Homo sapiens: one gene and its partner. The protein of the gene in region 2 interacts with the protein of the main gene of each other region in a biochemical or structural test. Each region holds a gene or a part of one and is shown on either strand. Other genes may lie near its edges. The genes, in order: GZMK and UFD1.

The links.
Region 1: of the proteins of UFD1 (region 2) and GZMK, one has a biochemical effect on the other in vitro, tested with the Homo sapiens proteins (one study listed by BioGRID).

Annotation. Positions count from the first base shown.
Region 1 is NC_000005.10:55,026,931-55,030,855, reverse strand, and holds part of GZMK (granzyme K precursor), read right to left. Parts: intron 423-3,925; coding exon 272-422; intron 1-271.
Region 2 is NC_000022.11:19,458,575-19,462,499, reverse strand, and holds part of UFD1 (ubiquitin recognition factor in ER-associated degradation protein 1), read left to right. Parts: intron 1-3,925. UniProt on the Homo sapiens protein: Essential component of the ubiquitin-dependent proteolytic pathway which degrades ubiquitin fusion proteins.

The DNA of each region.
Region 1 (3,925 bases), on a different chromosome or scaffold from region 2:
TCCTTGGGCCTGTTAAGATGTTCCCCTCCTACATATGTTGAGTATCAGAGTTGCTTTTCCTTGTATAAACACAGCCCTGGTGCATTTGTGATAAATTCTTGTTTCTTTCAAGACAGTATATGGAATAACATGGGCCCTTATAAAATATATCATAATCACCTCAAACATGGGGAGGGTGCTAGCAAAATGCATTTTGTAGGTGATTTAACTAATTGAGCCATCCTGTATAAAAATGTTGACAAAATAGAAGGAAGACAATGCTACTACCTACCTTAACCAGCATGATATCATTTGATTGAGGATCTGATGTAACTCTTGAGAATGGTATAAATTTTTTGATCTCCAGTGTTTGTTTGGAGGCCTCATTCTTTGAGAGAGAGTGTGCGCCTAAAACCACAGTGGGAGACTGGCCTTTGGTAAACCTAAAAAAAGCAAAGACAATGAAAGCAGCAGAATGATTTCCAAATCCCCCAGTGGGGAGTGGTGATGGTCGAGAGGGTTGTATACACAGAGAAACAAGGGCTATCTCCAAGGTAACCTGCCTAAGATTAGGTGGAGTGACAAAGGTCTTAGTGGAGCCCAGCATGAATTGATATTAAGGGCCAAATGACTTGCCCTTAATCCCACCCTAAACCAATTCCCTGGCATTGCAAAAGAATATCAGAACTTGTATCCAACTGGGGGAAGAAAAAGGAGTGAAATCCTAATTGACTTAGATCAAGTTTAAAACAAAATTATGTTCATTTATGTAAAAATAAAGCAAATTATATTCCTTGAGTTTGTAGTTTGAGATTTACACCAACTACCATTAAAATTTGTTTATTGTGGTAAAGTATACATAATGGTATAAGAATGGTAAAATTTACCATTTTAACCATTCTTTAATGTACAGTTTGGTGGTATGAAGGACATGTATATTGTTGTTCATCCACCACTATCATCTCCAGAACCCCAGAACTTTTTTTATCTTCCCAACATTAAGTGTTTTAATAATTAAGGTAGCCAGGTGTGGTGGCTCATGCCTGTAATCCCAGCCACTTGGGAGACTGAGGTGGGAGGATCATTTGAGGCCAGGAGTTTGAGAGAAACCTGGGCAATACAGTGAGACCCCCATCTCTAAAAAAACATTAAGGGGCACACTGGTGCATGCTGGGCATGGTGGTGCATGCCTACAGTCCCAGCTGTTTGAGAGGCTGAAGCAGGAGGGATTGCTTGAGTCCTGGAGCTGGAGGCTGAAGTGTCACAGCCTGGGTGACAGAACAAGGCCCCATCTCTTAAAAACAAACAAACAAACAAACAAACAAACAAACAAAAACCACAAAGATCCCCACCCTACACTTGCTCACCCACATGCCTAGACTTCATCTCAGGTCAATGTGGGGAAGTAAGGCCTATTACATGACAGTCAGATATGTCCATATGTCCTGTCCCCTCAATTAGAACAAAGATTTGGACAAGAAAGGAAAACTTTCCTCAAGGTAAGAAAACAGTGCTAATTTAAAATGAAGATACTTTAAGGTTAGTAGCCATTCCATCGGGGAGATTTAGAGGATACGAACTGGTGAGTGAGGTGAAGAAATAGGTTTGTTTTTTGGCTTTCTTTTTTAACGTTTTTTTTTTTGAGAAGGAGTCTTGCTCTGTTTCCCAGGCTGGAGTTCAGTGGCGCCATCTCGGCTCACAGCAACCTCCGCCTCCCAGGATCAAGCGATTCTCCTGCCTCAGCCTCCCGAGAGGCTGGGACTACAGGCTTGTGCCGCCACACCTGGCTAATTTTTGTATTTTTAGTAAAGACGGAATTTCATCATGTTGGCCAGGGTGGTCTCAATCTCCTGACCTCAGGTGATCTACTGGCCTCAGCCTCCCAAAGTGCTGGGATTACAGGCGTGAGTCTCTGTGCCTGGCAAGGTTTGCTTTTTAAATCTCTGGTCATACACAGTTCTAGTACCAGTGTTTCAACAGTGCCACAATTGATCTGATTTACTCTTTGTTGGATAAAATTACATTTACAGCAGTGATAAAGTAGAAATAATTTTTTGGAGATTTTGGCAGAACCGTAGAGCCATTTGTATACTACAGATACATTCCATTACAGTGTCTATCTTTATGAAGTCCACCTCAGATCTTTTAATTGTATTTGTTTGTTTACATGTAACTATTTCTTTGCTACTTGGAAAAGCTACCAAAGTAGATTGCAGTAAAAACACACATACTCATGCATATAGATTAATAAAGATTAATAAAAGTTACAAAGAGCACAGAAACATACAGAAAAAGGAAGACATGATTGTTTCAGATTTGAAAATGGCAAATGCCTGTGGTAGAGTGGGTTTGCTTATGGCAGAGCTGTGACTGCCTGGAATGACCACTTTTTGGTTTCTACCAAAAGAGTTTATTTTTATTTATTTTGGGAATTCCAGCTCTATTTGTTGAAAAGTTTGCCTATTGCAAAATCAGGACCGGGTGGAAATTTCTCATAGGATGTGGACTGGATTTCCTAGGATTGATTTGAATTCAAATTCAACATACCCACTAAACCCAAAACTTTGTAGGAGAAGGATGACATAAAAATCTTCAGGATGAATGCTCTAACAGAAAGGTGGGCACGTGCCTAAATGACTCACACAAAGAAGGCTATGAGGTACAAATGAGAGGTATGGAGGGTGGATTCTCACTAAGGGAGGGATGCTGAAAAAATGTCTGGGTTTCTTTCGTCTTTTACTAATTTACTCGGCTAGTTATTGCCTTTGAAATGTTTTGGTTATTTTTGTCTCCACTGGGACATGTTAAGACCAAAAACAACCCAAGCAGACCATTATTCCTTCTGACCTTTCAATTTCTAGATATCCTTCAACTGTAATCTGTGCTACTCAGGTCAAATTTTCTGCCCACAGGGTACCTGGAATTACTTGAGTTCTGGGATGCCACCTCCTTAGCTAAACTGAAGTCTGAATTCACACAAAGAGGAAGTAATAATGCCAGTGTTTTTCAGTTGCACAGCACAGGATTTCCCCAAATGCAGTCTTCAGACTTGCTTCAGAATCACCTGGAGGTGTTGGTTTAAAATGTGGTTTCCGGAGTCCCACCCTGAGCTTTCCTGGAAGAGATTCATATATGGAGCAGAACTACAGTGCGGCTTATAGTGGGTCTGCTGAAGACATCTGTAAACATTGTCTCCATTGAGCCTAACAATAACCTTTTTCAAGGCTGGTAAAGCTGACGGGCTGTGTATTCCTTACCAGTAAAAGATTGTTCTCTGACTGGTCCAAGGTGACACACCTCATAAATAGGGGAATCAGGACCCAAATTTGGCTTTTGGTGACTCCCAGTCCAGTGCTCTTTCCTCAATCCCTCTTTGAACCCCGTGCCAACCCCCTTCAAGCCTCTTCTTTTCTCTGCCAGCGCGCCTGGACACTCAACAGTGGTTCTGCTTAGACCCGCCCCTTGAGGTCTGGCAGCAAAGGCAGGGTCCCTATGTCTTGGAGATTTCTCTTGCCTAAGAGAGAGGGAGAAGAACTTGGCTGTCAGAGAGGGAGGTCTTCCCAGTCTTATCTCGTCAACATCAGATTAGTTCCTTGGTTATTACCATGGAAGGCACAGATAATTGTATAACAATACTCGATAACATCTATTAAGTTCTTTGTGTTCTGTGCTAAGCATTTTACAAAGCTTCCCTCATTTAAACCGCACAACAGCGTGGTGAGATAGGTATTATGACAATCCCCATTTTATAGATGAAGAAATTGAGGTTCAGGTAAACGAATAAACTTGAGGACCTTTGCCTCCAGGAGGCAAATTCGGGCAGGATTAAAGCTCAGTTGGCTTGAATCTAGAGCCTGAACATTGAACCATTTTGTTCCAGGAGCCTTGAGCATTTGAGATGGAGTGAGGCCATGTGGAAGGGGCTGTGGAAGGTTCCATCTAACAA
Region 2 (3,925 bases):
GAGACGAGGTTTCACCATGTTGGCCAGGCTGGTCTCGAACTCCTGACCTCAGGTGAGCCATCAGCCTCAGCCTCCCAAAGTGCTGGGATTATAGATGTGAGCCACCGCGCCTGGCCTAGACTTACTCTCTTGAGAGAGTTGTTTAGAATTAAAGTGTTCTCTGTTTACAATTCAATAAAGTTAATAAAAAAGATAGCTGAAGCTGGGTGTGGTAGCTCACACCTGTAATCCCAGCAATTTGGGAGGCTGAGGTGGGTGGATCACTTAAGTCCAGGAGTTTGAGACCAGACTGGGCAACATGGCAAAACCCCATCTCGACAAAAAATACAAAAATTAGCTGGGCATGGTGGCATGCACCTGTAGTCCCAGCTACCTGGGAGGCTGAAGTGGGAGGATCACTTGAGTCCGGGAGGCAGAAGTTGCAGTGAACAGTGACCGTGCCACTGCACTCTAGCCTAGGTGATAAAGCAAGACCTTGCCTCAAACAAAAAAAAAGCAAACCCTGAAAAGTCTACATGCATATTGAATGTTTAAAAACAAATAAAATGAATTAGATAAAGCAAATATCTTGAAAGATAAAACTGTGAAAAATTTTATACTAAGAAATGAGCCAACTTATTTGACATTGATAAATTATTTCCTAGAGAAAAGTGTAATTGAAGTTTGACTAAAGAAAAAAAAAAACAAACAGCCTAAATAATTGTATAGCCAGTCAAGTAATTCAATCAGAAAAATCTTAATCCAGGAAACACAGGCCCAGATGGTTATATATGCAAGTTCTTCCTCACACTCAAGCAATAAATTGCTCTTAGATATTCTAAAAATAGAGAAAGAACATATCCCCCAACTCATTCTCTGAGGTCGGCATAACCTTGATCACCAAAACCACACAAGGATAGGAGAAAGGTAAACTACAGATCATTGTCACTTGATACAGATACATAGATTGTAGATAAAATATTGACAAAAGAATCTGGTCATATATAAGGAAGATTCTATACGGCAGCTGAGTGTAATAAAGCTCCAGTAGTTAAGACACCATATGGCATTGGTTCTGGAGTAGACAAGTAGGCCAGTGGAAGAAAGCTTTATATACAAAGAATCTTGGTCCACCACTGAGGCAGCATTGATGTCACCAGGCAAAGGAGATACTGGGGTTGCGGAATCTGGGATATTGACTATTCCTAAGATGAAAAAACAAATTGAGTTCCTAACTCATACCATAGTCAAAAATAAATTGCAGATGAATGGGTAAATAATATGTGGTACACACATACAATGTAATATTATTCAACATTAAAAAGGAAGGGAATTCTGACACATGCTACCACATGGATGAACATTCTGCTCAGTGAAATAAACCAGATGCAGACAGACAAATACTACATTCCGCTTACATGAGTACTTAGAGTAGTCAAACTCATGGGAGACAGAAAGTAGAATCACCTGGACACCGTGGTTCACACCTGGCATCCCAGCACTTTGGGAGGCCAAGGTTGGAGGATTGTTTGAGCCCAGGAGTTTGAGAGTAGCCTGGGTAACATAGTGTGATCCTGTCACTACAAAAAATTAATGAAAAAATTTTAAAATTAGCTGGGCGTAGTGGCATGTGCCTAGTTACAGCTATTCAGGAGGCTGAGGCGGGAGGATCAGTTGAGTCTGCAGTGAGCCAGGGTCAAGGCACTGCACTCCAGCCTGGGGGACTGAGCAAGACCCTGCCTCAAGGGAAAAAAAAAAAAAAAAAGAATGGTGGTTGCCAGGGCCTCGAGGAAGCAGGAATCAAAAGTGAATGTTTAGAAACGTATAGTAATTTGGCATTGTCATAACCTCCACACACATGGCCACAGAACCAGTACTTGTCTTGGTGAGCTCTGGGCGTCTGGTGTGTGTTGTGTCTTGCTTCTGTGCAGGAGGACCACATGGCAGTCCAGCAGACTGCACATTTTTAAAAACTAGGTCTTCCCAGGTAGTTTGAGGAGCACCAACCTAGAAAATTGGTCCCATAGTTTAAAAAAAAAGTATTTAATATTATGCCAATACATAAAAGTAAATGGAAAATGTCACAGGAATATTTATCCTTACTAAATGCAATAGTACTTCTAGGGTACTGTCTTCCAATTCTTTCCTTTTCAGTTCTGCTTGCAGCCCTGTTGGTTTTATGACCCACTGATTATTTGTGGCCTTTTGAAAACATGAAAACGGTAGAGAAGCATGAGCCAAGCCCTAGGAGACATGTTTGAATGTTTATAGTAGTGTCATTAACACAGCAAAATGATTGGAAACAGGCCGGATGCTCAGTGGATAAGTGGTAGTATATCCACACAATGACAGATCCTTTTTTTATTCCTTATCTATTCAATAATTATGACACTTTTAAAAGTAGATTTGGCCCTGCTTAGGTTTTTTTTTTAAATGGTGGGACTATCCAGACTTTTTAAAATGGTTGTAAAAGCAAGACATACTGGCCGGGCATGGTGGCCCATGCCTGTAATCCCAGCACTTTGGGAGGCTGAGGCGGGTGGATCACAACGTCAGGAGTTCAAGACCAGCCTGGCCAACATAGTGAAACACCATCTCTACTAAAAACACAAAAATTAGCTGGGTGTGGTGGCACGCACCTGTAGTCCCAGTTACTTGGGAGGCTGAGGCAAGAGAATCGCTGGAACCCGGGAGGCGGAGGTTGCAGTGAGCCAAGACCATACCATTGCACTCCAGCTTGGGTGCCAGAGCGAGCCTCCATCTCGAAAAAAAAAAAAAAAAAAAAGCAAGACAGACTTTAGATAAAAGCAAAGAACCTGAAATGATGCAGGAAAAAGTAGATAGGGCCACTTTTAATTTCTATGCTTCTGGAGTTTGTTTGTTTGCTTGTTTGTTTGTTTGTTTTTGACACAGAGTCTCGCTCTGTTGCCCAGGCTGGAGTGCAGTGGCCCGATCTCAGCTTACTGCAAGCTCCACCTCCTGGGTTCACACCATTCTCCTGCCTCAGCCTCCCGAATAGCTGGGACTACAGGCACCTGCCACCACTCCCAGCTAATTTTTTGTATTTTTTAGTAGAGACGGGTCTTCACCATGTTAGCAAGGATGGTCTCATTTGCCTGACCTCGTGATCTGCCCTCCTCGGCCTCCCAAAGTGCTGGGATTACAGGCGTGAGCCACCACGCACGGCCCTGCTTCTGGACATTTTTTATGTGCCTTTTTTACATAGGTGAGGTCATCTTAGACACAAGCAACATGACTGGTTTTACAATTATTTTCCTGTTGGCTGCGTAGCATACCATTGTATAACTGTAAATTTACATATGAAGAAATATAATTCAGCTGCATTTTGAGTATACAGACAGTCCCTGACCATGGTTCTACCTAGAATTTTTCAACTTTATTATGATGCAAACATGATACACATTCAGTAAAAACCATACTTTGAATACCTATACAACCATTCTGTTTTTGATCTTCAGTACAGTATTCAATAAATTACATGAGTTATTCAACATTTTATTATAAAATAAGCTTTATAGTAGATGATTTTGCCCAACTGTAGGCTAATGTATGTGTTCTGAGAATGGTTAAGGCAGGCTGCACTATGATGTTTGGTAGGTTAGGAATATTAATACATTTTTAACTTATAAGTTTATGGGACTTGGTTCCATCATAAGTCAAGGAGCATCTGTACAGTGGTATTAGTGACGTTGGTATGAGCATTCTTAGAATTTTCTCATTGGGTATAGCTAGTTATTTACTTAGAATAAATTTCGAAGGCCGAGTGCGGTGGCTTATGTCTGTAATCCCAGTTCTTTGTGTGGCCGAGGTGGGCGGATCACCTGAGGTCAGGAGTTCGAGACCAGCCTGGCCAACATGGTGAAACCCCATCTCTACAACAATACAAAAATTAGCCAGGTGTAGTGGCACATGCCTATAGTCCCAG